Regions from separate parts of the Homo sapiens genome. Here all the other regions are linked to region 5. Evidence: fine-mapped expression QTL. A gene starts in region 5. Each other region holds a variant in brackets. All regions are shown on one strand. Distances are between the middles of the regions.

The links. PIP is the estimated chance that this variant, and not a neighbour inherited with it, causes the effect. A credible set is the group of variants that fine-mapping cannot tell apart.
Region 1: its variant is the best candidate, but not a certain one, in a credible set for the expression of LINC02693 in skeletal muscle (GTEx, PIP 0.79).
Region 2: its variant is the best candidate, but not a certain one, in a credible set for the expression of LINC02693 in whole blood (TOPMed, PIP 0.71).
Region 3: its variant is the best candidate, but not a certain one, in a credible set for the expression of LINC02693 in tibial nerve (GTEx, PIP 0.56).
Region 4: its variant is the best candidate, but not a certain one, in a credible set for the expression of LINC02693 in whole blood (TOPMed, PIP 0.58).

Annotation. Positions count from the first base shown.
Region 1 is chr17:21,522,026-21,528,341 of GRCh38, reverse strand. LINC02693 (long intergenic non-protein coding RNA 2693) reads left to right here. Exons shown (of 2, transcript NR_160801.1): 2 at 1-32. Among named protein-coding and RNA genes, the nearest start is that of LINC02693, 26 kb to the left of the region's middle. RefSeq lists an enhancer at 5,564-6,064. The variant G/A (reference allele first, on the strand shown) is at 2,851.
Region 2 is chr17:21,513,872-21,520,187 of GRCh38, reverse strand. LOC105371589 (a long non-coding RNA gene) reads right to left here. Exons shown (of 4, transcript XR_934332.3): 1 at 2,776-6,316; 2 at 1,729-1,786; 3 at 484-703. Among named protein-coding and RNA genes, the nearest start is that of LINC02693, 35 kb to the left of the region's middle. The variant C/A (reference allele first, on the strand shown) is at 3,321.
Region 3 is chr17:21,596,437-21,602,752 of GRCh38, reverse strand. No RefSeq gene overlaps it. Among named protein-coding and RNA genes, the nearest start is that of LINC02693, 48 kb to the right of the region's middle. The variant C/T (reference allele first, on the strand shown) is at 2,764.
Region 4 is chr17:21,537,623-21,543,938 of GRCh38, reverse strand. All of the region lies in intron 1 of LINC02693 (long intergenic non-protein coding RNA 2693), which reads left to right. Among named protein-coding and RNA genes, the nearest start is that of LINC02693, 11 kb to the left of the region's middle. The variant A/G (reference allele first, on the strand shown) is at 3,527.
Region 5 is chr17:21,548,841-21,555,156 of GRCh38, reverse strand. It overlaps LINC02693 (long intergenic non-protein coding RNA 2693), which reads left to right and starts at 3,479. Exons shown (of 2, transcript NR_160801.1): 1 at 3,479-4,161. RefSeq lists a silencer at 3,416-3,585.

The sequences.
Region 1 (6,316 bases), 27 kb after region 5:
AGGGATGAAAATAAAGTGAATATTAAAAATTACCTGCATGTAATGTTTCATATATTCTACATATTTTAATATAAATGCCAGAGGTTTTTGAACCAGAGCAACTCCATCTTGAATAGGGGCTGGGTAAATAAGGCTCCACCCTCAAGCCTGGAGAATCTTGAATAAGGCTGAGGCCTACTGGGCTGCGTTCCCAGGAAAGTAGGCGTTCTAAGTCACAGGATGAGATAGGAGGTCAGCACAAGATACAGGTCACAAAGACCTTGCTGATAAAACAGGTTGCGGTAAAGAAGCCAGCCACAACCAAGATGGTGATGAAAGTGGCATCTGGTTGTCCTCATTGCTCATTACACGCTAATTATGATGCATTAGCATGCTAAAAGACACTCTCACCAGCACCATGAGAGTTTATGAATGCCATGGCAACGTCAGGAAGTTATCCTATACCGTCTAAAAGGGGGAGGAACACTCAATTCCAGGAATTGCCCACACCTTTCCTGGAAAACTCATGGATAATACACCCCTTGTTTGGTATATAAGCAAAAAGTAACAATAAGTACAAGCAGTTGAGCACCCCATTCCACTGCTCTGCCTATGGAGTGGCCATTCTTTTATTATTATTGTTATTATTATTATTGAGACAGAGTTTCACTCTTGTTGCCCAGGCTGGAGTGCAATGGTGCGATCTCAGCTCACTGCAGCCTCCATCTCCTGGGTTCAAGTGCTTCTCCTGCCTCAGACTCCTGAGTAGCTGGGAATACAGGTGCCTGCCACCACACCCAGCTAATTTTAATATTTTTGGTAGAGACGGGGTTTCTCCATGTTGATCAGGCTGGTCTCAAACTCCCAACTTCAGGTGATCCGCCTGCCTCCTCAGCCTCCCAAAGTGCTGGGATTACAGGTATGAGCCACCGTGCTTGGCCACTGGAGTCGCCATTGTTTTATTCCTTTACTTTCTCTAATAAACTTGCTTTCACTTTATGGATTTGCCTCGAATTCTTTCTTGCACGAGATCCAAGAATTCTCTCTTGGGGTCTGGAACAGTGCCCCTTCCCAGTAACATAAATATGTAATAAAACAAAGGTCCATAACTTGACCCAATTGGAAACACAAAATTTACTATAAGGATTTATATAACAAAGAGATAAAAGGGGCCGTGATTGGCTTTTGTGCCTGTGCAGCATGGGCTCCAGATTAACAAATGCACCAATTGACAAAGCTTCATGAACTTAGTCAATGCTGGGACTCAAATTACAGTTATACCTGGGAATCTCACTAAATTTAAACACTGCAATGCCTGTGATCCTGGCAAAATAACTATAGAGGAAAAATAGCCATGCTTTATTTTAACTGTAGCTTTGCCTAAATTTCTCATAAGCATAATACTCATTGCCCTAAAACATGCTCTAACACAATGAGTAATATGTATGATTCAATTAAGTCTTTGGCACCTACAAATTGGCTTGGACCTTGGAGGTCCCCAGTAAAAATAGTTAATATTGCTATAATTATGAGGTAAATTGGACCTTGCAGGTCCCCAGTTAAAATAGTTAATATGACTCTACGTAAGTTATAGCAAGATGTGTTAGTCTGCTAGGGCTACCAGACACTGGGTGACTTTAACAATAGAAATTTATTTTCTCACTGTTCTGGAGGCTGGAATTCCAAGACCAAGGTGCGGGGTATTTGGTTTCTCTGAGGCCTCTCTCCCGACCTGGGATGACCTTTCCTATGAGCACACCCAGCACTGAGGTCTCTTTATGTCTCCAGATTTCTTCTTTTATAGCGACACCTGTCATGTTGGATTAGGGCCCACCTTAATGGTCTCACTTTAACTTAACCACTCCCTTTAAAGGCTGTATCTGTAAATTCAGGCACATTCTGAGGTACTGGGGTAAGGGCTTCAGTATGTAATTTTGGGAGAGACACAATTCAGATGTACAGGACCTTCAAGTTTAAAACTTAATATATAAAACCTAATTAATAAAAGGGTGATTCTCTCTACTGCTTCTCCATTTGACAGCTCAGTCTTGCCTGTGCTTAAGCCTGGAAAAAAATAAATGGTGCTTCACAGTGGATTACTACAACCTTAACATTGTAATCCTTTCATTAAGACCCCATACCCAACACCCAGTATTATGGAACTTACTGACCCCATCCAATCAACAACTGGTAAATATTTTGCTGTTATAGATTCGGCTATCATGTTCTGTTCAGTGCCTATTTCAATAGCCTCTCTGCCTTAATTCACCTTCACCTGCAATGGGACACAGTACTTCTTCTCTAGGCTACCCACGGGGTATCCCAGCAGCGTTGCCACCACATACAATCTTCATAGAGCTCTTAACTGCACCCGTTTCTCCAGGAGCTCAGGGTGCCCCAGACCTTCATCCCAGACAGCATTGCCCTGGAGCTCACAGCTGGAGATGACATCACCACAGACATCCCCAACCCAGCCCTGTCCTGCAAGCAGGATTCTGGCCTCCCTAGTTAGGCCTCAGAACTGGCTGATCACCTGGCTTCATAAACCTGGGTGTTTTCAGGGAAATTTTTGATCTCTACAAACCGTGACATGTAGAGAGGGAGACATATCTGATTCAACAGTCCCTGATCCACTGATCCATGGACATATTTGCCCACAAGGAATAACCAAGAATCTCTCTCTGGTGGAGGTCAGGGGCATTACATGAGCTGAGTAGAGCTTAGTTTTTAATCCCTAGACATAGGCAAGGTGTTTAAGTTATTACGCTTCCAAGCAGCATGGCCCTCACTCACTCAAGGTGAGATAAATATTGCTGCAAAGGAACAGCAGCTGCATTGTTGGAGTTTCGCTTTTGAGGCATGTGTGTGTGC[G/A]TGTGCGTTGATTTCTTTCACAAAATACATTTTCAAATACTTCCTCACTCCAATCAACATTGCCCCTTCCTTTTAAATAAATTTTTTGAAAACTAATAAGCCTATTTTATTTATTTACATTTTTTATTTACATTTCTTTACAAACTGTTCGCTATTAGTCTACAGTGAAAAGTCAACACTTTATAAAATAAGATTGGCATTTAAAAGCTTCTCAATTCTAATACTTTGAAAGGCTACGCCGATTTTCAGAAAGTCTGGGCTATTCAAAATATTTTACAAAATTCTGAAACTTTGAAAAGCTGCAAGATTTGGAGACAGCAAGACGAGGCGTTTTTTCTTATATCCAGTTTTGTTCGTTATATGATGAAATAAGCACTTTTTAAATTAACAGCTTGAATTCTAAAATATATTTTTGAAAATCAATAATGATTTTTGTAAAAATAGAAAATCTGTTGTACTTTTATCTTAAAATTCATTTCTTATCTATTTTCTAGATTTGATGTTTTGCCATTTTAAAGAATACTAGACAAGAGGATCTCAATCTGGATCACTATATTGGGCTCCTAATATCCTGATATAATTTTAAATCATCCCAAACAACGCATTATTACCATATACATCAGCATTTCCCAAACTGTGCTATAAGCTATGTATACTATTGATATTTTTGAGCTAAAATATACTTATAAATACATAAAAATATATTTATCTAGGTGGTGTTATGCAATAATGCACTTTTCAAAAAGAAATGATATACCAGTCTCAAGAATACCCGGAAGCTGCATGAAAATTCTTGATTCCTTTTATATATAGTGACAGAAAAAGATGTAAATATAACAATTGGTTATTTTTATTGTATAAAGTTTTTTCTATAAGCACATGTGAATTAAGTATTCATTATTCCACATTCCCCATGTCACCAACGCTGGGTGCCCACAGCACAGTTATTCTAACACTGCAGCTGCGGGACTGAGGGTGGCAGACTGGGCACCTGCACTGAGCCACATTCTTCACACAGTCGGACCAGCCCTGAGCCGGGGGCAGAAACATCCTGACGTGAAAAGCTGTTTGCCAAGTACAATGACCACACGTTTCGTCTATTTTGAATACACCATCACAACAAACTCTACGTTCTTGACAGATGAGACAGGCAGATATGATCTTTGAAGGCGAGTGAGAATGACGTTCACACAGACTCCCATCCTCCCTCACATGACTGGAGGATTAAATGGCGGCGGAGGGGTGGATGTTCAGCTCAGGGGCAGATTAGTGACACTGTCACAGCTATTTTAGGACCTGAAATATTTATATGATCCTATTCCAAACCCTAATACATAAACAATGAACTCAAAACTGTACACAAAGGGAAACAAAAAACCACTCTGACAGTGTCCAGGTCCCTCATAAACTCCCCAGAAGTCAAGGAGGTCCAGGCTGTTCTCAAATTCCTGGGCTCAAGCGATCCGCCCACCTGGGCCTCCCAAAGCTCTGGGATTACAGGCATAAGCCACCACACACGGCCTAATAAGTTCTTTTGATATGTTTGGAATGAATGTGTTTCCAAGGGTAAAAGCTTACAATGACATCTTTCTTACCTGTAAGATACCCGAAGAGCAGAGAGAGGGTCCCCAGGCTGGCTAAGCATCCAGAATGCTGGAGGAGCTTTAAAAACATAGATATGAATTATTGTGCTTCACCCCTTACTTACTGAGTCACAATCCCAGGGATGGAAGCGCCCAGAGATCTGTCTTTTCAGAATTTCTCTGGCTCTCCAGATGGTGCTGACAATCAGGCAGATTGAGAGCCAGTGCTGCAGGCAGCTCGTCCCAGACCTCGGGAGCAGGGGAGTCACCCAGGGCTAGGTCAGACTGAAGGTTCTGGTGCATCAGGGGTGGGGAGGGGCTTGAGAGTTGGCCTTTCCAACAACCTTCCCAGAGGGGCTGGTTTGCTGATCCTCAGACCAGGCTTTGAGGGTGCACAGCACTCTTCCTCTAGGTGTGTGTCCACATACCTGGCACCTTTGTTGTTGCATTGCCCCAGGTATAAAGTGCAGGGTGCCCCCTCTACGCCTTCAGCCCTGCTCTCTCCCCTGCTGACCCCCAAATCTCTGGGGCTTGGACTTGCCTTTATAAAGGGACCTCTCAGCTCAGGGGAGGGCCCTCCCCACTGGCCCCCTCTTCCCAAGGCCCAGCATCAGTGGGAGCTGCTTGAGCAGCCCCTCATCCTGAGGGGTCTATGTGGTGTGAAAGGCTGAGGGACACTGTTCTGTTTATTGTCAAGGGCCAGGAAACAAAGCCTGGAAACAAAGTCTGGTATTGCTCAACCCAGTGGTGACGAGTGACAAGATAGGGTGGGGTGCAGAGGAGACTCCCACACACAGCAGGACCGAGTGAGCATCAATTCTTCCTTCTAACACTGGCACCAAGGAGAGACCGCTGTCCCTTCCCATAAAGGCAGTGGACAATTGGAAGCATCGCTTGGTGTGCCAGCTCCTTTGGGGCAGGAGAACAAGAGGAGCCCCATCCCAAGCACAGTGGATGATGAAGGGGGTCCCGGGCTCCCCAGATCCTGGGCTTCTCTTGATTCTCAGTGTTAAGCTTGTTGATTGAATATAGTTGGTTAATGTGGACCCCAAGGCAAGGAAAAGACACAGGCCAAGAAACGGGGGCTTCAGTCAGCTCTGAAAAGTCAGGAAGAGCATTTGTCTTTTTTTTTTTTTTGAGACGGAGTCTCGCTCTGTCACCCAGGCTGGAGTGCAGTGGCGCGATCTCAGCTCACTGCAAGCTCCACCTCCTGGGTTCACGCCATTCTCCTGCCTCAGCCTCCCGAGTAGCTGGGACTACAGGTGCCCGCCACCACGTCTGGCTAATTTTTTTTATTTTTAGTAGAGATGGCGTTTCACCATGTTAGCCAGGATTGTCTCGCTCTCCTGACCTCATGATCTGCCTGCCTTGGCCTCCCAAAGTGCTGGGATTACAGGCATGAGCCACTATGCCCAGCCAGGAAGAGCATTTCTAACATCCAAATGCAAACGTCTGCCACCCCGGGCTGCTCCCCTCTGGAAACTGCACTGCAGGGCACAGCACGTCCCAGGTTTGCCTTTCCTAATTCCCTGCACCACCCAGCTCCCGCCTCCCTCACTTTGCGGGATGAGAGGCCCACACAGACAGTTCCTTCTCACCTTTGAAATGGCAGTGGTGGCTGCAGCCTGGGAGCTGAGGCCATCCCAAGCGGGTGAGACCCCCACCAGGGGCCCTGGGTGCCTGCCGGCCACAGGCCGAGCCATCCAGGCTATGCACAGGCACGCCTCAGCCACCAGGATTTCTTTCCTGTGGAACTGGGCCTTCCATCCAGAGAGTCTTGCAGCAGAGAGCAGAAATGGGCTTTCTCTCTGCTGGTGTAGGAAAGCCATGGCAGGAAGGTGGTACCAACAACACACAGCTGCCTGTCCCATGTGGGGTCCCAC
Region 2 (6,316 bases), 35 kb after region 5:
TAAAAAAATTATGAGTATGTTGGAGGCACAGTGGCTCATGCTGTAATTTCAATACTTTGGGAGGCCAAGGCAGGCAAATTGCTTGAGCCCTAGTGTTGGAGACCAGCCTGGGAAACATGGCGAAACCCTGCCTCTACAAAAAGTTTTTAAAAAATTAGCCGGGCATAATGGCATTCATCTATAGTCCCAGCTACTCAGGAAGCTGAGGTGGGAGGATTGCTTGAGCCCAGGAGGTTGAGGCTGCAGTGAGCTGTGATGGCACCACTGCACTCCAGCCTGGGTGACAGAGTGAGACCCTGTCTCAAAAAAAAAAAATATATATATATATATATATAATATATTTATTATATATATTTATTTATTATATATTATATATGTATATATTTATTATATATATATATATTATGTTGGGAGAGATGTCCCTCATAATTAAACTAGGTTAATACAGATGATTTTATTTAACAGCTGAAATGGTTCTGTTACCTGGGAGCTTGTTTTATATTTAGTTGATCTTGGAGGATCCATCATGAACCGCCCTAGAAGCGCCCACAGTTACATGTTCCATGAGTGCTTGATGGAAAACCATGTATTTCTGAGGCTCTGGTGGCAGGTAGCAGTTATGCAATGGCATGAGGAAAATCCATTTAGTAGAGTTGTCCAAAAGTGCAATGGCCTGGCTCGGTAAGCTGTAAATTCTCTGTCCCTGTGAGGGGTAGAAAGTGAGGATGGAGAAGGAAGGAATATGCCAGACAGGGGTTGAACCAGATGGGCTTCTTCCAGCTGTCAGCTTCGTGACTACGGGTACTGTCCATGTCTCCAGGATCCACCTGGGATGCCTCTGATAATGTAACCACGTACCCCCATTTTTCTTAGGCAGTTTATTCCAACAAGTGAGCTATGGTGCAGGCATTGGGCCATGCGGTATCTGTTTGACTTTCAGGGCCTTAGGTCAGCTTGGTGGAGTTCTCTGGGTCCCTCTAGAGAATCATCCAACCCAGGGATGGCCTGCAGGGTCCCGCCCCACCACTAAAGCACTTACATTCACACAAAATCCTGGAGCTGAATGTTCTCAGCAGGCTTATTCCTCATAGCCAAAAGCTAGAAACAAATCCAGAGGTTCTTTGAGGAGCGAGTGGTGAAACAGTTGGGGTCATTGTGGAAATGGAGGGAAGCCTTTGGAGAGATGTATAGGAAGAACGAACAGGACTCGGTAATGGATTATTCATGACATGGGGGGATACAGGCTGAAGAAACTCTCCTAGAGTCTGGATTGGGGTCCCTAGGTGAGCCGTCACACCATTTATTTAGACAGTAAGTCTGGGTCACAGCCAAGTCAAGGAAGATGACCTGGACAATAGAGTGGGATCAGTTTTAATCTGTAATGTCAAAGAGGCATTTCAGTCTGGAAATCAGCTAGGCAGCTGTACATATAATTCTGAGTGGAGATAAAATCTGGAGGTTGTAAGAATAGAGTTAATAATTAATGCTTTAAATATCAATTTGGTCACCCAGAGAGCTTGGGGTTCTTTTTTTCTGGCATACCAATAAAAGAATAACAGAGTCCAGGGGTGAGTTATGACGCACTTCAGATTTTAAATCCCAAGCAAGGGTTGTGAGCGCGCTGGCAAACCTTGGGGAGGAGCACAAGAAATGCAGGAGGAGAAGGAGAAGCATCGGCGTCAAGAGCCAGGAGCGAGATGGACCCCAGAAACAAAAGGAGCCACTTACCTGGACTGCTCCTGGGATGTGGTAATGGAAAGTGGCCATTAGATTTTCCATCATGGAACTGTCAAAAGACAAAAGTACAACAGATTTAGTTTAAAGATCCTAATTGGCTTTATTTGCTATTCTAGAATCAGGCAACACTTCATTCCATAAAACAGACTGAGCGTTCCTCCAAGCAGAGTGGGGGAGATGGGCTTTATGGATAGAAAAGGCTGAAGTGGAAGCAAAGAACAAAGCATAGATTGGTTGCAAAGTTACTTTCCTTGTAAACATTAAAGCAGAGGGGAAGGACTGCTTATCACTCTGGCTAAACCTGGCCTGTTGGAGATTTGCCTTTTATCTCTCTGTGTCCTGACTTCTCAGAAGGTCAGATAAACAACTTAGTTTTGGTTTGGAAAAGTGGAACTTTAGCGCAAGGAACTCCATTCCAGTCCGGTCTTGTTACTGAACTGAACCTGGGTCTGCTTGCCCCGTGTGGTAAAACCAAACACCCACACGGAGGTTTGCAGCAGGAGAAAGGAGGGTGTTAACTTGCAGGACACCAAGCAAGGAGAATGGGGCAGCTTACACTTCAGACCCAACCTCCTGGATGGCTTACAAGCAAGGGATTTTAAAGGCAGGGGAACAATTCAGGAAAGCAGAAGTTACAGGGAAACCATAAATCAATGCAGAGGGTATACATTGGTTTGGCCCAAAAAGGCGGAAGCTCTTGAAGCAAGGGGCTTACAGGTCATAGGCGGCTTCAGGATTCTTTGATTGCAATTGGTTAAGGAAGCCAGGCTTTGTCGAAAACTTGGGGTCAGCAGAAAGGAATGTTAAGGTCTGGCCTGTGGGCATGACTCTCTCCAGGCCCCTGAGAAAGAAATTTACAACAAAGAGCAGCCGTCAGAGTGCAGCCCTCAGCTCCCCGACATCTGAGGTCTCTGTGATGATGGTCAGTATTTTCCATCTGACGTGGGTCCGGGTTTCTGAAAAACCATTCATGGACATATGCTAAGATGTAATCTTTAGTTTCAATAGGGGACCAAACACCTTGTGGCTCTGACTTACTTGAGTGCCTGTTACTTGAAGCTATTATTCCCTTCTTGCTTATCAGGTGGCTCATTTACTTCTCAAGGCCAGCTAGGTACCTGGAATTTCCCTTGAAGGAAATCAAGATTTTCCTTTGTTTCCATGCTGGAGGAGGCCCAGCAGGCCTCTAATAGGGGTCCATGCTCCGTCTCAGTCTGTTGGGCCTAGTGCAGAAGCTCAGTCCAAACTAATGGCCTCCTGTAAATGTATTTTACAGAAGTCAGCAGTGTCCACAGCAAGGGAGAGTTTCTTGAGCAACCTGTTGGGAGACGTAAGAGTGCAATAAAGAGTGAATGTCAGGTGAAAACACTGAAAAGATGAGGACTGACAAGTATTTACAGAGGGTTAACTCTGAAGTGGTTCCAACAAACTGGGATCTTGAAAAGCAGGTCGTGGAGGGAAAAATGGCTTCCCCTTCCCCTTCCCCTTCTAGGTTCTTTGGCTGGGCTAGGAATTAAATTGACATAAGAAAAGCTAATAGGAGAAACACCACTTTAATTACATCTATATGCACAGGAGTCCCC[C/A]AAACTATAGACTAGGAGAAGGGCCAGATGAATGAAGCTTAGATAGTGTCCTGAGTTACAGAAAGGAACAGGGGCTTGGGGCTTGCTGAGGATGGGCACAAGTTCTGGGAGGGTGAGGGGAGGCAATGTCTGGTGAATAAAAGGTGTCTTGTTCTGCAGAGAAAAGTCTCTGGGGTGATAGAAGTTGTCTGGAACCAGCCCTCTTCCTGATACAGATACTTCACTAATGTAGATTTCTTTTATAGTTATAAATTTCTTTTACAAAAGGGCAGTTTTTCAGAGCTACTCCTGTGTCTGCAATTTCTTAGAATAACAAGATCAAAATTTGCCTAAGAAGTATATTTTGTGTTCACATATCTGGTTTTGTACTGTCATATTTTGGGGTGGTGTGTCCTGAGCCCCACCAGCAAGGGCCATGTTATAGGAATACAATTTTTAATTGACTTTTTAGAGTTGTTTTGAATTCACAGCTGAAGGGGCTTAGAGTATGCCATCCCAAAATATGCCACTCTGATACAAAGATTATTTTGAGCTGAAGACAACTGAGACCAAGTAGACACAGGACAAACTCTCTGCCCTGTCCCCATCTACCAGAAGGGCAGGATGGCTCTTACCAGCCCAGAGGTAGCACCAGAAAAATCAACATCACAAGCACACCAAATCAACCTTATCTGTCAGCTTCCCCCATAGATCTACCTTCCCACAACTTGTTATCCAAAGAAGCTCAAGGTCCCCTTCCTTTGTCTTTCCACTTCTCTACAAATACATTGCTCTCTCATTAAGATGCTAATAAGCCCAAGTTCTAACCACCTTTTTGAGTTATTACTTATCACTGAGCTCTCCCATGTGTATTTGCGATGCATGAATTAATAAATGCGTTGTTTTCTCTTGTTAACCTGGCTTTCATTGGTCTAAATTTGTGGGGCCAAGGCAATAAACCTTAGATGGGTGGAGGAAAGATTTTTTCTATACTTACACAGCAAAATTGAGCTGAGCGTGCAGAGAGCTCTCATATACACCCCTCACCGGCCCGCATGTGCTCACGTGCGCACACACACACACACACATACACACACACACATGCACAGCCTGCCCTACTGTCCATGTCCCACATCAGCAGGGCGCATTTGTTACTACTGCTAAACCCACACCAACACATCATTATCACCCAAAGTCTGTGGTTCACATTAGGGTCACTCTTGGTGTTGTATTGTCAGTGAAAAGAGCCAAACTCTGTAAAATATTTGAAGAGATTTATTCTGAGCCAAATGTGAGTGACCCAAGGTACAGTCAGTCTCAAGAGGCCCTGAGAACATGTGCCCAAAGCAGTTGTTTTACAGTTTGGTTTTATACGCTTTAAGGAGACATGAGTCATTAATCAGTACATGTGAGATGTACATTGCTTCAGTCCAGAAAGGTGGGACAGCTCGAAGGGGGTCGGTGGGAGGAAGGCTTCCAGGTCATAGGTGGATTCAAAGATTTTCTGATTGGCAATTCATTGAAACAGTTATTATCTAAAAACCTGCAATCAATACAAAGGAGTATCTGGGTCAAGATAAGGGGTTGTGGAGACCAAGGTTCTTACCATGTAGATGAAGTCTCATGGAGGTCGCCCTTAGAGACAATAGATGGCCAATATTTCCTATTCAGACTTTTAAAAGGTGCTAGACTTTCAGCTAATCTCTAGAGGATTGGGAGGGCCTGGAAGGGAAAAGAGCTAGTTATGGTAATAGAGATTCTTTACGGATGCAAATTTTCCCCACAAGAGACAGCTTTGCAGGGCCATTTCAAAATACACAAAAAAAATCCTATTTTGGGGTAAAATATTTTTATTTCCTTCTTTATCTGTCATATGATGTTATACGAGAGTCAGGTGGGAAAGAAAGCTGTGTTATATATAGGGTTAAATAAAGCCCATCTGTTGAGATGTCAGTTTCTAGGGTATGACTCCCCAGGCCCCTTAGATAGGAATTTGGGCAAGAGAGAAAAAATGTCAGTTTAGTCCTCAGTACATTCTGTGGGTTTGAACAGATGTCTAATGCCATATCCACCACTGTCATATCATACAGAGTAGTTTCACAGTCCGGCAAATCCCCTGTGCTCTGCCTGTTCATCCCTCTCTCCCCCAACCCCTGCCAACCACTGCTCTTCTTACTGTCTCCATGGTTGTGCCTTTTCCAGAATGTGACAGAGTTGGAATCTTACAGTATGCAGCCTTTTCAGATCAGTTTCTTTCAGTTAGTAATATGCATTTAAGGTTCTTTCATGCAGCTCAATAATGTTTGGCAGAGACTCAAAGGCAGGGAGAGGAATGGGAAATCTGCGGTGGAAAAGGGGAAGAGGAGTCCTGATGGGGTTGCCAGCCACCAGAGGCGGCTGCTAGTGAAGTGGCCTCATTGTCTGGGGTGACACCCAAGGTTCATTGTCTCACAGCCACAGAGATCAAGGGCGAGGACACACAAAGGGTGAGGTTAAGAGTGGAAATTTAATACGTGAAAGAAAGAGAATAGCTCTCTGCTACAGAGAGGGGTCCCGGAAAAATAGGTCGCTGATGCACAGTGGAATGCAAAGATTTTTATAGATGAGCTAGTGGGGAGCAGTGTCTGATCTACATCGGGTGCGAAAAAACAGGACCAGGTGTGCCATCTGCATAGGGCACGAATCTCTGGACGCCCCCACACCAATCTTTTATTACGCACGTGGGTAGCTACTCCATGTTGCTTATTTCTTTCTTACTGTGCATGTGTTAACAACAACAAAAAATAATTAGGGAAGGTGAACCCCCCATGGTGGACATGCCTGGCGCCAGGTAGTCCCTTTTATCAGTGCAGCTGCAGGCCTCCCCCACCCCCCTGCAAGCTTCCAGCTTCCTCATCTATGTTTGCAGCTCCATCTTTCAGGCTGCTCTTTGTTAGAAAGAAATGATTTCTTGGGATGTTTTTTGTTAGAGTTCTGCCAAGGACTCTTTTGCCCTATCTGCCTAAACAATTTATTTC
Region 3 (6,316 bases), 48 kb before region 5:
AGTGGGGTGGACAGACTACCTCCGAACCTTGGGTGCCTTTGATTTCTTTCTTTGTATTTGATGTCATTACAATGAACATTGATGCCTGCCATGTGCCAGGACTGAGTCCCGGATGCCCAGAGGAAGGAGGCACCATTCCCCTGAGCCTGCTAATGGGTCTTCCATCCACCCTTCTCATTATAATGCAGAGTTCAGGTTTTGAGACTAGGAAAACTTGAATTTGACTCCGCTGGGTCACCTGCCAGCTGCTGACAGCCACTTAATTCCTCTAGGCCCAACGTCCCTATGTGTAAGCACAATACACAATTAGGGTTGCTGTGAGCCTTATGCAAGGAGAGGCTTGGAAGTGCTTGGCAGCAGCAGATGGTCCACCCAGACTGTCTGGGTAGGCCTCGGTCTGCTTCCCTCCAGGTCTGTGCCACCTTCCCTCAGGCTCCTGCAGAGGCAGCCCGTCACCTTGTGACCAGGCTGGAAAACAGCACCTGGCAGGAGGGCATGGGGACTAGGAGGGTCCCTGTCTGGAGCCCCTGCCAGTCGACCAGGCAGCATCTCTGGGATGGGTGGCTGGATGCCAGTGCTCTTGTCCTGGCACCCCTCTGTTTCGTGCACAGGCTCGTGGTGGCAAACTTCCAGACCTCTCCACATTCTCTGTCCTGGTGATGGTGGGAGTGTCTGCCCCTCTGAAAGGTGCCCCTGGAGGTTGGGAAATGGCCATGCCCTTTGAACCTCACTTCTGGCCCAGGGTCTGGCTCAGACAGAGTGCACAGAGTGTGTGTTGAGGAGGGTGGAGGAGTGGCAGCCCTTTACCTATGAGCCAGTGCTCTGCAGGTCTGCCCAAGGGCCAACATCCCAGGTCCCAGCATCTTCTGAGAAGACATCCCAGTACCAGGGTCCCTGTTGGATAGTGCCTCTGCCCATCTCTCCTCTGGCTCCCAGCAGGTTCATGGTTGCAGTGGCCTGTGCGGGAGGGGTGCAGGTGATGGGGCCAGGGACTTTTGCAGGAAGGAACTAGGACATTGGCCAAAGAGGCTGCTTCCTGACCCCAATTGTGTCCCTAATTTACTGTGTGACCTCCACAAGTCATTCAGCATGTCTGGTCCTGTTTCCCCTCCCCCCCACTAAGTGATGGGTACAATAATACCACAGTCCCTGTGACTGTGTTTTATTCAGGAGTCAGCTGTGGGCCTCCCTGACACTCCATCCCCAACAAGGTCCAGTGTTGGGAGTTAGTTGGACCTCCACCCCGATCTTATATTTTCCAGCAGCATTTTGGGAAGGAATATCCTGAAAGGTAAGCCTGCCTGTTATCTCCTCAGAGGGTTCAGGAAAAGCCAGCCCTCTCTATCCCCTTTCCCCACTATGATCCTCCAGGTCCGTTCACCCAATCATTAGGCATGAACTAATTGAACACCTGCCAAGACCCAGGTAAGCTTTTGCATCTAGAGAGAACTAAGACACAGCCATGGTCCTGGGGGTCTCACCCTCTTAGATGAGAGGCCAGCAGGAGAGGACATGTGGGTCGGGTTCAAGAGTGGAGTAGGGAGTTGCAAGTAGCTAGTGCCCACCTGGGCATGGTCTCATGGGCCCTTGCCAGGAATGTGCATGCCTTCCTGTGGCCATTGTAAGGCTTTTAGCAGAGAAGGGAATGAGATTGAGAAAAAAAATCTCCATGGCCAGGGCTGCAAGAATGGCTAAGGTCCTTGGTGGTACCATGGGCACGTGGCAATGACCGGAGGTTTGAGAAGTAGAGTAGGCAGGGTCTGGTGGTCGAGGGGCATCTAAGGGAAATCAGACCGAGTTCTAGCTTCCCAGTTTGCACTCATGGGCAGACAGTGGTGCTATTTACTGAGGGGAGATGAATTGAGGAAGAGTAGGATGGAGGAAACACCGGGCCTGCCTGAAGGTAGATGCCAGACAAAGGGAGGAAAAGAGAAGCCTGAGAGGAAGAAGCAGGCACAGATCAAGGAAGAGAAGCACAAGAGTGCTGGCCCAAAGGGCAAGAAGTGTCCAGAAGAAGGGGGCTACAGAAAGGTCAAGTTAGATAAAGGCCATAGTACACTTATCCAATGTGGCCACCAGAAGGCCAGCTGGTCAAGGGTGTTGCTGAAGGCAGAGGACAGTGGGTCAGGAGTGAAGGTGAGGATGCAGATCGAGAGTGTAGACAACAGGCAGAAGGGGAGAGAGATGGTGTGGATAGAGGGGGTGTAGGGTCATAGATGGAAATATCCCCAAATTTAGGTGGATGGGCAGGAGATCATTGCTGAGAAGGGATCTCTTAAGAAAGGAGAGGTGGAGCAGAACAGAGGGGGCAACGATGTGAGGGTGGCAGTGACACAGGGTCATTGGAGAGTGGGGACACCTGTCTGTTGGGCATCGGCTCATGGCTTAGGGCAGGTTACTGGGCAAGCCCACAGACCCCTAGAAGAGAGGAGCTCCTGCCATGTATGGCGCAGTCTTGTCATTCACCATGCACTCTAATTTCACATATTGAGTACTTGGTATGTACTGGTCACTGTGTTGGACACAGGGGACATAAAATATGGTAAGACACATTCCCAAAGGGGCTAACAGTACTGTGGCCTCTTACTCAAAGGCTTGCACCCAGGGTTAAGCTTCTAACAAGTTGGAAGGCAGACATAGACACCTCCATTTGCCTTGAGTACAAACAGATGTTCAGAGAGGTTTAGTGACTGGCCGAAGGTCATGCTGCCAGGAAATGGCTGTGTCTAGGACAGTTCCAGGTCTCCTGCCCATAAAACCCAC[C/T]CAGGCCACCACGTTCAGTTTCAGCCAGGTGGCCATCAGGGTTGACCACCCTGTTAGACTCGGCAAGAAGAATACAAGCCAAAGGCAAGCACATGCTCATTCTTCTGATCATCCTCTGTGTGCCCAGCCCTGTTGTGGGCATGGGCAGCAGGGAAGGAGACATGAATTCCAAATCGTGACCTTGCCATCTGCAGCTGAGGGTGTAGTTGGAGAATTTGATGTCCCAGGAGAGGGATGTCTCCTGTTTCCTGGCTCCCTAGGAGAGGGCAGAAAGCAAGCCCTCTTGAAGGAGAGAGAGGGTGGCAAGGGGAAGGTAAGCAGGGACAACTCTTCCCCTCCCTCAAAGGAGGCCACTCAGGAATCCCAGGGAAGCCAGGCAAAAGCCCGGAGAATAAAGGGGCCTCTGAGCCTCCTCTCCACTGCTGCAGTCCTGACTCGGGGATTTCAGGGTGCAGTCATCAATCCCGCCTCAAAAGGAGAAAGCCCAGGCCAGTGGAGCCTGGCTGCTGCAACTTCTTATACGAACAGCTCTGGAGGCCCCACATCTGAGCTGGCAGCCTGGACTGGAAGGAGCTGGGACCCCTTGTTCCTCCTCCTCTTCTGGGAACTGTGAGTGAGCCCTCACCCATGAAGGACCAGGAGAGGGCCACAGCAGTTTCCTCACTCTCTCCCCTCCCTCCTGAACTTCCACCTGGTCCTCCCCTTCCCCCATCCTATAATCCATCCAGTGACCCTTCCTCTCTGGATCCAGGCCCTGCACCCACTTCCTAGGTCAAACTCCAAGGGCAGCCCAAAGTCACTGTGATTGAGAGAAAGAAACTGACTTCAGGACAGACCCATCTGTTCTACTCCGGGGCCAGCTGGGGGCCTTTGGAAAGGGAAGCTGGTATCAGCAGGAAGCTGAAGCCAAGTTGAGGGGACTCCAGTGAGTCCCCTTGCCTGTGCTCCCTCCTACAACAACTCCCCCACCCCCAAGCTGGAGAAGCCACCCTGGGTGGTTCAGCTGGATTACGCCTGGCCCAACCTTTCCCTCCCCTGACTCACCTGCAGACCCAGGCTGACCCAGAAGCCCTGCTGCCTGTCTAGTGTCTGACCTCTGAGAGAGCAGGTTCTTGGGTCTCCCTCCATCTTCACTTCACATTCCTGTCCACCAAGAGCTCTCTCCATCCACCCCTCCCTTCCCTTCAGCCCCCATGGTCCTCTGGGGATCTCCCTGAAGGCTGCACCTGTTATTCACCTCTTAGTCCCTGGCTCCCTGCAGCCTGCAGGGGCCTGAGATGGGCACCAGGACAAGCTCATCTGCCCTGTCGCATCTTTCCCCAGCCACAGCAGTTGCCCTCATTCTAGATGGATTTTCTCTCCCCTTCCTAGAGCTGACTGTGTCCAGTAGAGGGAGGGGTGGGCATTAGTATGGAATGCCAGCCTAGATGGATGGTCAGTGCCAGGCTCCGGGACATAGGAAAGTCCATGGTCATGACCAGGAGTAGCTGATCACCAGGAATGCAGTTGGGGCTCCATGCCCGAAAGCTAGGGAGACTCAGAGCTGGATCTGGGCCACAGAGTGAGGGGACAGTGGCTGTTGGTTTATATTGAGGGGGAAATGGGGCTGACAGGACTAAGGCCCTGGGGCTGAAGGGCATAGGAGCTCTTGCTAAAATTTAGGAGGCTCTGTTTGGAGGAATCTAGTGTTGATAGAATTTCCAGAGCTGCTGCCTGGGCCAGGTAAGACCCACGGGACCCTTCTGTCCAGCTTAGGCTCCTGGTGGGTGCCTACCCTGTCTCATCACCTTCCTCCTAGCTAGAGGTCCCCTATGAGGCATGAAGGTGGTGGGGCAGAGGCCCCTGTCAGGGCCTTCATGTCTGCCTGGCGGCTGGACCACCTGGCCGGAGAAAGGAAGCCGAGGTAGCAGAAGGGCCTGCCTGAAGATCCTCTGAGCCTTCCTCCTCCTCTTCTACTCCTTGGCCCAGGTGGTTGTATAAATTACTATTCACCCTATAAAAATTGTTTAACTACATCATAAATATTTGGATAATGGGGGAAATCTCAATCTGATTACTGTTAGCATTTTGGTTTCTTTTCATTTATTCTCCTTCCTATGTGTGTGTCTTGGGGATTTCCCATAAGGGCATCGCAGAGTACTGATGATTGTGCATTCTGCTTTTTCACTTACCGTATTCACCTAGTCAGCCAGTGTCAGCTGCTGTACTGTACCAGGCACTAGAAACCAATAAAAAAGTGTGATTCCTACACTCAGGTAGCTTATTTTCCAGGACATATTGGCCATCAAATCCAGTTAGGATGTGGTATGCAGATATGATATCATATGGTTATGATATGATATGGTACATCTTCAAGAAGCTGTGTCAGGGACATGATGGAGAAGCCACTCTCCCAGGATCTTGTCAGCAAGAGGGAAATCCAGGAGTGCTTCCCAGAGGAGGAAGGTGTTGACGGAGGTGAATTCTAAAGGATTCTACAGTTCCTTCTCATGAAACCGTCTGGACCTGGTGCTTTTTTCAGTGGCAGATTTTTTTCTCGTCAGTGGTAATTAAGTTTCTACTCATTATCTAGTTCATTAGGGGCACTTTATATTTTACTAGGAAAGCATTCATTTTCTCCAAATTTGTAAACTCTCCACTTTTAAAATTTATTATGAATTTCTTTGTGGCCAAATGATTTTTCTAAGATTTTCATAGACATAGAAAAAATATATATTTTCTATTTAAGGGATATAAGGTCCCATATATACCAAATCAAGTTTTTGGTTATTCAAACTGTCACTTCTTTTGTATCCTTTGGGGGAGGAGGCTTTTACTGTAGTTCTAACAGAGATTTAGCCTTCCACTCAAATTTTGTCTATAAATCTCTTCTTTTACTAGTTTTTGCTTTTTGTATTTACTATGATGCTGTGGGGAGCATGCAGATTTTGAGTGTTCTCTATAATTTTCTCTATAAATTTTCTCTATAAATCTCATCTTTTACTAGATTTTGCTTTTTGTATTTACTGTGATGCTGTTGGGAGCATGCAGATTTCGAGTGTTCTCTCATTACGAATTGTGCCTATCATTACATGGTGTCCCTCTTTATCCCATTTCAGTGCTTAACCTTAAATTTCACCCTTCTATTATTATTATGGCCACTCTTTATTTTACTTTAGCTTTTGCACTTTCCTGGTATCTCTTGGCATTCTTTTATTTTCCACCATTATCATTGTTTAAGTGTTTTTCTTGTATATATACATCACTGGGTTTTTTTGTTGGTGGTGGTGTTGATTGAGACAGGGTCTTGTTCTGTTGCCCTGGCTGGAGTGCAGTGGCAACATCACAGCTTGCTTCAGCATTGACCTTCTAGTTTGAGGTGATCCCCCCACCTCAGCCTCTACAGTAGCTGGGACTACAGGCATGCACCATTACACCCAGCTAATTTTTTGTATTTTTTTTTCTTTTGGAGAGACGGGGATCTCACCATATTGCCCAGTTATCACTGTATTTTTAAACCCAAGCTGACCTTTGTCTTTTAATGGGAATTCATCTGTTTACATTTCATTATACA
Region 4 (6,316 bases), 11 kb after region 5:
ACAGGGGCACCATCACAGGCTAGTACCCAGTGTGAACTAAGTCTTGGGAACTTACTGGAATTGTTGGAAGATATGCCCCTTTTTAGTAATGCACATGGCTGTAAATATTAGGTACAATTTGATTTCAGACTCAATTCATTATGTGTTTTGGCTCAGCTGTGGCCTGCATATGGTGTTGCTGATATAGAAATGAAAATGCTGGTGAGCCACAGAAAGAAAAATCCTGTGTTTTCTGAAAGCTTCAAACACCTTTGGCCTTGTTCCTTAATCACCTGGGAGGAAGAGAACCTACAAAAACTGGAAACGCAGTGGCCAGCAACCAGCCCTTGAGAGGCTTGCTGAGCTGTGAGGGTCTGGAGGAGGAAGAAGCTCTACATTGTTTCTGCAGCCCCCGTGCAAAACAATGTTGAATTCCAGCGTGATATTGAAATGAATGTATTTTATTTTAATGTTAAATCTTAAATTTTTTATTAAGTCCTTTGTTCACAAATGGAAACAACAAAATGACAAATTATTTAAAATTTTCAGATTTTATAACCTTCCTGTCCTCTAGCAAAAAAAAAAAAGAAAGAAAGAAAGAAATTTGATTCCCAATGTTGAAAGGGGGGCCTAGTGAGAGGTGTTTGGGTCTTGGGGACAGATCCTTCAGGAATGGCTTGGTGCTGTCCTGGTGGTAGTGAGTGAGTTCTTGCTCTATGGAACATGAGAGCTGGTTGTTGTGAAAGCGCGTGGCACCCCACCTCCTTTCTTCTTTGCTCCACTTCCCCTTCCACCATGACTGGAGGCAGCCTGAGCTTCGGAAAGGAGGCAGTCCTTTAAGACAGCCGTGTCCAATATAAACAGAATATGAGCTATGCCTGCCTGTAGTTTTAAATTTTCTACTAGCCAGGTTAAGGAAACTAAAGAGAAACAGATGGAATTGATTTGTAATAATATAATTTATTTGACCCGATGTATCCAAAATATCATTTTAATGTGTGATCAGTATAAAAATACTAATGAAACGTTTTACATTTCTTTGTCCTAAATCTTTAAAACTCACTCCATATTTTACACTTCTAGCATATCTCAGTTCAAAGCAGCCAGATTCCAGATGTTCTGAGGGCTCTGACTCCCTGAACTCAGGAAGGTGAAGGGCCTGAACCCCACTTCTCTGCCAGGAGGGAGGGAGCTCCCCCTCCCTACCCACATCTCTTCTCAGTCCCAAAGGAAGAGAGAGTGCCCTGAGAGAGCAGGGGCTGCCAGCAGGAGGTGGCCACAGGTAGGCCACTGCTGCCCATCTGCTGCTTGGTGGGGCCATTCTCCCCTCCAGAGATCAGAGGACAGCGGGGTCCCAGGAGGTGGGTCCTGTCCACAGCCTTGACCTCCAGAGTTTAGATTTGGAGGGAATAGATTCCAGACAAATGCCTTACCTTGCTATTTGGCCTTTGCCCTAGTGGTCAGGCTGTCATCTATTTCCTCCTGTGTTGTGTGATACTGTGTGAGTTTTAAGCACATACATGTCTACATGCATTTCTTTATAATTCAAGGGACCCAACTTCTAATAAGGGGAAAAGGAATTCAGTACCTAGACGGTCCCTATAGTGTGCCAGCTAACTTGTAGTCAGCATGTTGTTAATCCTGGCATCCTGTCAGCTCTGGGTGTGTTAGTTAGCTGTTACTGTGTAATGAGCCATCCCAAAACTTATTTAGCTCATGATTGAGCAAGTCAGCAATTTATGGCAGGCTCCTGCCATAAATTAATTGCTATACCTATAAAACCTGCCGTACCTTTATAAGGTATAGCAATCTTCATGTGTGTGTATGGGAGAAGGGGGTCAGCTGCTGGTGACCAGACAGCTCTGCTGTTGAGAGTGAGTTGGCTTGTGGACTGGGCAACTTTGGTTCTCTTCCGCAAAGTGTTTCATCCTCTAGCAGGCTAACTTGGGCTTGTTGTCACGGAGATAGCACGGTTCTGAAAGAAAAGGAAGAAGCATTCAAGACCTTTTGAGACTGGGCCCAAAACTGCCAGCTGGATCCAAGTCTTGGGAAACAGATTCTAACTCTGGATGGGAGCAGCTGTAAAAGCGCATTGCAAAGGGTGTAGACACAGGGAAGGATGAAGAAACACGTATAAAGCACTTCACATGTTTGGAAATTCTTTTCATCCCATTTTGGTATTTGTAGGCTATTACTGGTCTTCAACACAGACTAAATCAAAATGCTGTGCCCAAAACAACCTCTTACTCTGAAAGCAAGTGATGTAAAGATAGATCTGCTGAAAAGACATTTCCTCCTGCTGCAATTTAGTCAAGCAGCTGAGCACGTCTTGAGCCGTCCTTTGATTTTAACAGGGCAGAGCTGTTTTCTAAGACTGCCCACCACCCCTCCCCGCAAAGCTGAGATGCTGCGATGAGGCAAATCCCCGCAGCACACAAGGAAATCAGGCACAGCTAAGGTTCTCACCCCTGATGCACCTTACAATCACCTGGGTGGCAGGGGGCTTTTAAAATTCCCAAAACCCAAGTTGCAACAGACCAGTGAAATCAGAATCCCTGGGGTAGGATCCAGACATCCTTGCTGTTTAAAGCTCTCCAACTGGTTACAATGTGTGGCCAGAATTGAGAACCACAGCATGAAACCAACGTCTTTTGATGAACTAGTAGCAAATGGTTTCTTAAACGAATGTGAAGTCTTTGCTGCCGAGCTGTAGCCTTTCAGTCTTAATTGCGTTATTTACATTACTTACTTACTTACTATCTTTTGCAGGACTTGACCTCTGCTCCTCGTTTTGTTTCTGATTCAACTCAATTTCACAAGTGCTGAGTGCATATGATGTGCAGAGCACCGTGCTAGTTATTGTGGCCTTGGTTTGGGGAGGACTTTGCTGGGAAATAAAATCACATCGTCAGAAATAAGAGTCTTACTACTTACCAAATTGAGGCAGAAATGGGAAGACCTAGGGGGTCTCACCCAAGGGTTAGGACACTAATAGATACATCAGAATATTACAGTTCATCTGATGATGCTGTGAGTGGAAGTGTCCCACTTTGAAACAAAAAACACTGCTGTTACTCTGAGATACTAAGTTATGTGTGCAAATATGTGGTATTTAACTATTTTGTTGATATATAACATGCATATAGAAATACGTGCATAAAGCATTTACTTAAGCTCAATATATATTATGACAAAATTGATACACGTGGGTAACCAAGAAATAGAAGCAGCCTCACTCATGTGGCCCACAAGCGCTTTCTGCCTCCCTCCTCTTCAAATGTACCAGTGTCTTAACAGCTGACATTACAGATCAGTTTTGTCTTTCTGTGCAAGTCTTTTCGTTACAGAAAAATTTAAATATATAAAAAATGAACAAAATTGTATAATAGAGCCGTGACCCAGCTTCAACAGCTAATAATCATGTGCCATTTTTGTTTCTTCTGTACCTCAGCCCTTTCCCTACTACCCCTCACTTTATTTTTTTTTTTAGTTCTTTTTTGGTGAGGTAAGATACACATGCATTGAAAGGCACAAATCTTAATTGTAC[A/G]GCTTTGAAAAATAAATACACCCATATAACCTTCACCTCTTTTCAGAATGGAATATTTCCATCATCCCCAGAAAACACCCTCATGCTCATTCCTAGGCAATTTTTAACTCCCCCAGAGGAAAGTACTGTTGTGGGGGTTTTTTAACTGTAAGTTCATTTTGCTTGAAATCATAAAATATACATTTTTATGTCCAGCAGTCTCAGCATAATATTTGTGAAACACCTCCATAGTGTGTGTTTTAGTAGTTTGTCCCTTTGTATTGCTGAATAGTATTCTGTTGTATGAATGCACCATGGTTTGTTCATACATTTCTCTGTTGATGAATATTTGGGTTATTTCCTGTTTTGGGCTATCATAATAGTAAAGATCTATGAACATTCTTATACAAGTACTTTTTTGTATTGTTGTATTCCTTTATTAGCATTGAAGTGACACATTTTTTCATTTTTTAGCAGTTCCTCCAAGGATTACAGTGTGCATCATTAACATTCTCACAGTTTAGAGTTAATATTGTACTGTTACAGTGAGTGTAAAATAGAAAAACTTGCTACAGAATAGCACCATTTATCTCCTATCCTTTGTGCTGTCGTTGCCATAAATTTTACATCTGCACATGTCATAAACCCCACAACACAGTGTTATATTTGCTTTAGTCATAGATCTTTAGGTGAAATTAAGAGGAAAAAAAAGAAAAATATATAATAAATATTTGGAGGGAGATGTTTTGAGGCCACAGAAACATACTGTTTCTTCATCCACAATTTTTGCATTCGTTGATGACTCTTTCCTGCAGTAATGATTACTGTGGTGTTCTAGTGGTAGTTTTCTATTTGTGCTCCTTCAACATTTATTACTTGGAATTCTTCTGCAAGGAAGATTTGTCTTTCCTTCCTGATTTATGTAATCTTTTCTATATCAGTATGGACTTGTGGATATTTATTTTATGTTCTTGGTTACAATTTAGTGCTGTCATAACTGTTTGCCACTCACATTGTTCCACCTTGAGTCATAGAGAGCTCTTCCAGGTTGGCTTCTTTTGACATGTCCCCACCCTTTTATGTTTTTTAAAAGCACTTTCTTATTTTCTGGCACTGCAAGTTGCTCTAGTCTCATCTTGTGTTTTTCGTGGCAGGCCTAGAATTAGTCATTTCTCCAAGAAGCCTTGGTTTCTTTTATAGGAGAATGGTATTTAGAAACCAGGATCTGGGTACTGGGTGTGCTCATTAATACTGGGATATCACTGCTTCGAGGCCCTCTCAGCATAGTTTGGAAAAATGTGAATGTTTCCAAACATGTATGCATGAATACAAACTCAGCATCTACCTATCTACATCTGTCCATCTAAACAGATACATTAAAATAGACATGGGTTCATACTGACATTCCTAACTCCAGTCCAGCACCTTAGGGTTTATTCTAGCATTCTCCCTTTGTTTATTTATAACTCTTTCACCTACAGAGAGAAACTGGGCTCTAATTCTCTAAAATATATTTGCTAACATGGAAAATCATTTCAGAATTGCTCACCCATACCCTGAAACAAATTTGCCAACCAGAATACAGTATGTTTGTGTGCAGTTCTTGAGTCTTACAGTATGCAGTCAAAACAGTATTTTCAAAGGTTACTTAGGTGAAGACTTTTTTCCCCCACACTCTTCAATATGGGTTAGTCATAATTTTTAACTCAGTAAGATTCATTTGTCACCAACTGCATTCCATCTGACCCGCCCACCATCTTTGTTGATTTTTAAATTTACATAGAATAAAATTCATTCTTTGTAACATACAGTTTCATGAGTTTTGACAACTGTATAGAGTTATACATTCACGTTCACAGTAACACAACTGTCTCATCATCTCTAAAATTCTCTATTGTTGACGCCTCTTTGTAGTCAACCGCTTCCCCAACCGCATTCTTTGGCAACCACTAATCATTTTCTATCCCTATAATACTGCCTTTTCTAAAATATCATATAAATAGGATTATAGAACATATACAACACAGATGAATCAATTGGGTTGTTTGTTGTTGTTGAGTTGTCAAGAATCACTTGGCAATATATGTGAGAGTTTATTTTGGGGCTCTCTAGTCTATTCTGTTCATCTATATGTCTGTCTTTATGCCAGCACCACATTGTTTTGATTTCTGTAGCTTTGTACTAAGTTTTGAAATCAGGAAGTATGCGTCCTCCAACATTGTTCTTTTTCAGGATTGTTTGGGCTATTCTGGATCCTGAAATTTTATGTGAATTTTAGGATGAATTTTTCTGTTTTGCCCAGCACATCATTGGGATTTTTACATTCTTGGTTTAGTTAATTCCTAAGTATTTTATTCTTTTTGATGCTATTGTAAATAGAATTTTCTTAATTTCCTTTTCAGATTATTCATTATTAGTATTTAGAAACACAGCTGATTTTTGTGCACTGATTTTGTATCCTACCATTCAGCTGAATTTGTTTATTCTAACAGGTGTGTGTGTGTGTGTGTGTGTGTGTGTGTAATCTTTAGGGTTTTCTACATCTAAGATCATATCATCTGCAAACAAATATAATTTTACCTCTTTCTTTTCAGTTTGGATGCCATTTGTTTATTCTTCTTGCCTAATTGTTCTGGCCAGAACTTCTAAGCCATTTTGAATAGAAGTGGTGAAAGCAGGTCTCCTTCCTCTGTTCCTATCTTAGTAGAAAACCTGTCAGTCTTTCACCATTAAGTATGATGTTAGTGTGCGTTTTTCATATATGGTCTTTATTATATTGAGGTAGCTTCCATCCCCTCTGCATTTGCTGAG
Region 5 (6,316 bases):
AGGTGGTATCGTGTTGTGGTTTTGATTTGCATTTCTCTGATAATTAGTGAAGTTGAGCATTTTTTTCATATGTTTGTTGGCCATTAGTATATCTTCTTTTGAGAATTGTCTATTCATGTCCTTAGTCCACTTTTTGATGAGATTGTTTGTGTTATCCTGAACAGCTACAATTCTTTGGCTTGTTATTTTAGTGGTTGCTTTAGTGTTTATAGTGCATGTCTTCAACTGATCACAGTCTACCTTCAAGTGATAATATATCATTTTAGTATAAGAAACTTACATCAGTATACTTCTTCCCTCCTAGTCTTTAAGCTATGACTGTCATCCATTTTATTTTACATGTTGTAAATTCCATAGTACTTTATTATTTTTGTTTAAACAATTATATTTTAAAGAGGCTTAAGTAATAATAACAAATCATATATTTGTCCATGTTGTTACTATTTCCAGTGTTCTTCATTCCTTTGTGCAGATCTAGATTTCAATATGGTATCCTTCTTAAGGCCTAAAAGACATCCTTTAATTTTTCTTGTGGTGCAGGTCTCCAGGTAAGAAAGTCTTAAGTCTTTACAAGTCTAAAAATGTCTTTATTTCTTCATATCCATTATTCTCTTTTTGGTAGTATCTAGTTGGCTGTGACACTAATCCATTAAACTTTCCATTTCAATTATGGTATTTTTCAAATCTAGATTTCTATTTGGTAATTTTTCCCAATCTACTTGGTTATTTTCATACTCATGCTCTTTAATCCCCTTGTTTCTTTACATGTAAGACACACTTTATGTGATGTTTGGTGACTCTAATATCTTAAGTCTCTGTAGGTTTTCTCCTCTGTACATTGTTTCTGCTGGCTCTTGCCCATTATAAATGTTTGTGATTTTTGATTAAAAACTTACATTCCATGAAGCTGTCTTCCATTTTGCTTTTGCCAGGCACCTGGAAGGCATTAAAAACCTGATGTCACTTTAAATTTGCAGCTTGAGACTTTTTAGATTATACAGTTTGTGTGTGAAGCCACCAGTGGAAGGGCTGCCCATGGTTATATATTAATGTATCCTCACTCTCAGGAGGGATGTTTTCCCTCAGGATGGATAATCTTGTCTGCTGCTCCAGGGGCTGCAGGGATTGAGGGGGCAGGAGACAGGGGAGGCAGACAGGTTGATTCATAGTTCCCTCCTACACTAAACCTATCTTTTTGGTGTCCTACTTTTTTTTTTTTTTTTTTTTTTTTTTTTTTTGAGACAGAGTCTGGCTCTGTCGCCCAGGCTGGAGTGCAGTGGCGCAATCTCGGCTCACTGCAACCTCCACCTCCCGGGTTCACGCCATTCTCCTGCCTCAGCCTCCCGAGTAGCTGGGACTACAGGCGCCCGCCACTACGCCCGGCTAATTGTTGTATTTTTAGTAGAGATGGGGTTTCACCGTGTTAGCCAGGGTAGTCTCGATCTCCTGAATTCGTGATCCGCCCGCCTCAGCCTCCCAAAGTGCTGCGATTACAGGCTTGAGCCACCGCGCCCGGCTGGTGTCCTACTTTTGATGTCTTCTGCTAACCGTCCTACCTTGGACAGGATCTAAACTTTGTCTGCTATTCTGCTGCCCCATCCTCTTCCCAGACTATGAAAAGAGAGTTTCAGTATGACACTTGGCAACTATCTTAAGGGTGAAAAATGGCATCTAATTACTTCTTTGGGTTTCTACTTTCACTTTTTAATTTTAATTTTTTTGCCTTTGCGAACTCTTAATTATTTTGCAGCTCATTGATACATTTTTTAAAATGGTTCTTGATATGTATTCCAGAAGTTTTTGTTGTTTTCTGGTTCTTGTCAGCCCATGTTGCCGGAAATAAAATTCTTTCAACTTGTTCTTTAACAATTTACAGTATCCATATATTCCTTCCTGTTCTAGAGGCAATAGAGTGAGAACACACACTTAGGAGCCAAGCTGGCCTGAGATTAAGATCCACCAGCAATGTGACCTCAGTAGCCTATTTACATTCTGAGTCTCATAGGGTTGGTGTGATAATTAAATGAGGTAATATATGAACAACACTTAAAACAGAGACTGACACTGGTAAGGATGGACTTTCTTGTTATTACTATCTGAAAAAGTTGAAAAATTATGAGCCTGAGTAACAGTTATACATCTTACCCAATGGTTCACTAACCTCTGGTCCCTGGCTACCCCGGCCCCCTCTACCATGCAGTCACCCACACCCATGCTTATACTGATGGAGAGGAGTCAACTATGAGCTATTCACTGGATGACAAGCCCAGCTACTGTCACAGGTGCACCCCAAGTCCAGGACAGAATGCTAGCAGATAGCTGCTGGTCTGAGAAATGTCATCATCATATAAGCCTGAGTGAAAACACAGCCCCTTTACTACTAAGAAATCTGAAAACAAACAAACATAAACAAACATAATTTTAAATTTTGTATTTTTTATGATGTCATTTGTCCCAACAGCCATCTGACATCAATAGCCCTGATTACTAAAAGTCTCAACGTTATAGAAATGTTCTCCTCCTTTTTGAAAACCATGTTCATTTTTCCCCCACGATACAGCGCTATCTGCAAAGCCTTGAACTGATAACATAGCTCAGGGGCTAACTCTTGTCTTAGCAGAGTAGCAGCTGAAAAAAGAAGACAATTCTTAACAAACAGGGAGATCAGGAATGCTCACTTCTAAAAACATTATTTATTCAGGGCAAGTGGTATTTGTGACGTGCGAATGAAGCTTAAACTTCAGCTTTAATTTATAAGAATTAGGAAATGCAGATTAAATCTCTGATGCCATATTGTGAATTCAGTAAAGGTTAACTAATCTACGACGCAAAGACAAACGTTAGCTATCCTACGCTTATTATTCTGGAAATTTAATGAAAATTAAACAAGAAGACTCACAGAGTATAAGAATTGTCCCCCCGCCTTAACAGTGTTGTTTTCAGCCTCTGTTGCCTGAAACATTGCAGAATAATTCAGATTTTTTTAACCCCACCTTTTTATTGAGTAAAACCAAAGTACTAAACTAATAAATGTGAAAAAGGATGTTGGGTTTAAAAAGAAAAAGCCTCAAGACATCGAGCCTCTTAGATATTTTAAAAGTGAAGACTGAGAAGGAACGCACTGTTGCTAAACAGAATTATAGGATTATGGTCAATTTATAATCTTTTCAATATGGGATTTGAATGTTCTGATATTAGATACCGTGTACGTGCTTTATTTATATAGTACCTCCCGAGAAGAAAAAAACCAGTATTGGTTTATACAGTATTTGGCATGCTATTCACGTATGCAGTGATGTATACGATGTCAGAGCTAGAAAATAGCTTAGATACGATTTGGATTCAGCGCTGGGCGGCTCCGCCCCCGCCAAGCCCCGCCCCGTCCCCTCAACCCCGCCCGGCTCCGCCTCGTCCCCTCCGCCCCGCCCCGTCCCCTCCGCCCCGCCCCGTCTCCTCCGCCCCGCCCCGACCCCGGGGCATGCGCTGTGCGCCCGGCCGGCGTGGCTGGCTGTTTGAGGACTGCGCGCGGAGCTCCGTGGCGGGTGTCTGAAGTCGTGAGTTTACTGCTTGTAAGGAACATAGCGATCACTGGGAACCTGGAAGTAGAGACTCCTTTCTGCCATCCATCCGTCCCTCGGGCTGCTGCGAATCCCCCCGCCGGCCTCCAGGACCCCGGGCTGACTGAACGCCCGCACCGGTCCCGCCGCCCCAGGGCCCGCTACGCGCCCGGCATAATGGGAGAAAAATCACGACGGAAAGGCCCAGCCCCTCGCCATGCAGACGGGAAGCTTGGCCGCACGTGTGATCACCCTTACGCCCCTTGGAGTTTCACCCCCTCTTCGCGGGCTCCAACAGCCTGGGTCAGGCCTCCTTGTCCTGTGTGGGCCTCTCGGCTGCAAGAACACAGTCCCGAGCCCCGGCGAGCCCGCGCGCCTCCCACCCGCCGTGCACAGGCTGCACTTTACGCCCCAGCACTGCGCCTGCGGGACCATCTGGATCGCTTTTCCATTCTGATGACGTCCTGTACTTCGTGGCTGCAGGCTCCTCAAGCCCCAGGTCTGTGCAGAGACGAGCAAAGCAGCAGAATATCCGTGCCACAGCTTTCTGGAGCACCCATTTTACTACCAGATTTGGAAGGAACGAAGTTAAGTAATTTCCAAGGTAAGTAATTAAAATTTTACGATGAAAAGGCTAGAAACTCTTCTGCTGGTAATAACTGTCAGACATATCTGTGCCTGAAATGTCAGACTTTTTCTGAGAAAAAAACTGAAAACTTGTTTCCCATTATTTTAAATAGGAAAAATTATAGGGCACAACAAGTCAATAGAAAAAAACCTACCAATTTCCTAACTCACAGTGTGGCAGTAGGTTTAAGTTGCACATAAGTTAGGATGTAAAATGCTTAAATGTTGCCACTTGGTCACCCACATTTGATATGGTTGTTAACATGCATTTGCCTTGGATGCAGTAGCTGTGCGACCAGCAACATCACACGTGAACCTCCCCTTTGTCAACACACCAAAGCTTTTTGAAGTGACTGTCATGATCCTGATGGTCTACCAGTTGTTTCTGGAAGGAACATGTGGTTTTTTCCAGCAAACTATTTAGTTTAAAATGTTGTAATTTTTGAAAGCTCAAACATTATGTCTACAACCATCAGCCAAAAAATTTGAGACAGGTTCTTGCTCTTTTGCCCAAACTGCACCACGAAAGGGGTTCCAGCGATCCACCTGCTTCAGCCTCCCCAGTAGCTGAGACCACAGGTTTGTGCCACCATGCCTGTTAATTTCTAAATTTTTTGTAGAAACTACATCTCCCCACATTGCCCAGGCTGGCCTCGAACTTCTAGACTCAAGCAATTTTCCTGCCTTGGCCTCCCAAAGTGCTGGAATCACAGGCGTGAGTCACCAACCGCACTCAGCCTGAAAAATGTTTTGTGAGATAAATAGCTGCTATACAGTTTAGATATTAAAAACTAAGATGTGTTCTTCCAGGAAAGTTATACTTTCAGATATATTCTGTGTCACATCCTGTATGATGAAATAGATGGCAAAAAAAAAAAAAATCCCATTTAATTTAAAGATGGAAGCTGTAACTTCAAGTAAATTTGGAGCTGAGGAGTCCTTTCGGGCTATGACCCCAGAATTCTGGGGTTCTCTGTACTGATTTTTTGCTAGTGTCCACACACAAGCATTCCTTAATGCTGTGCATTAAACAAATAGACCTTTTTTAACCCCAGGTTTCTCTCCATTTACCATTCTGTTTCTCTGCTCCATGCAACTTCCTCACCTCATGTCCTCTCTTGCACCCACTCCTTTCCAGCTTTCCTCCAAGGTACTTTGCTGAAACGACTTTTATCTCAGTCATTTAGCTGCATTTGACACAGACGATACAATTGAGGAGTTCCACCCTTTCTTCTGGATTTTAGGGACCTTCCCTCCTGGATTCCCTCTCACCTTTATCCTCATCCTCCTGCTCCTCCTCCACCAGATCTCTAGTGATCCTCTCAGAATGATCCCACACAGTCTCATAGCTTTAAATACCATCCATCTGTTGATAACCACTAGGCTTGGGGCCTCTTCCCTGAGGGGAGCACCAAGAGTCATCCCTGACTCTTTTCCCTTCTCCCCCAACCCCCATGCAACCACACAGCAAGTCCTGTGGCTCTTGAGTGCAACCAGCATCCTGATTCACCATCTCCATTTCCACAACCAGTTTCAGTCACCTTCCTCTCCTACTGGGCTACTGCCAAGAATCCTCCAACCTCCCTGCATCTTGTCTTGCCCTGCTACAGTCCAGCCTCCACTCAAGCATCCAGAGTGATCTCTTGAAAATGTTAAAACATGATATAGGCATACCCCCACCCCTGTGTAAACCCTGCCACTATCTACTCATTGCAGTAGAATAAAAGCTCAGACAACCTGGTGCCTGCCTCTTCAGCCTCATCTCCTGCCCTTGCTTGTTCTTGCTATGTGGGTCAGATTTTCTGGTCTCCAGAGCTGAAAACAATCTTAACTGACAGACGTTAGATCATAGACTTTATCTACAGCATAAGGCATGGAAGGAAAAGTCTGAGAGAATGAAGGGCCAGAAAAGCTTGTTTAAAAAAAAAATAAAAAGCACAGGAAACTGGAAACGTAACTAACCTGTATGTATATACTTAAAAGAACATGGTAACAAAATGAACTCTTTAGAAACTGAGCCAACAGACTTGCAAACAAATAGAAATACCTTTGGTCCTACTCTGAAAACAAGAAGAATCCTTAGTGAGTATACAAGAACAAAAATTGTACACATTTCTGGGTCATAATGCAAT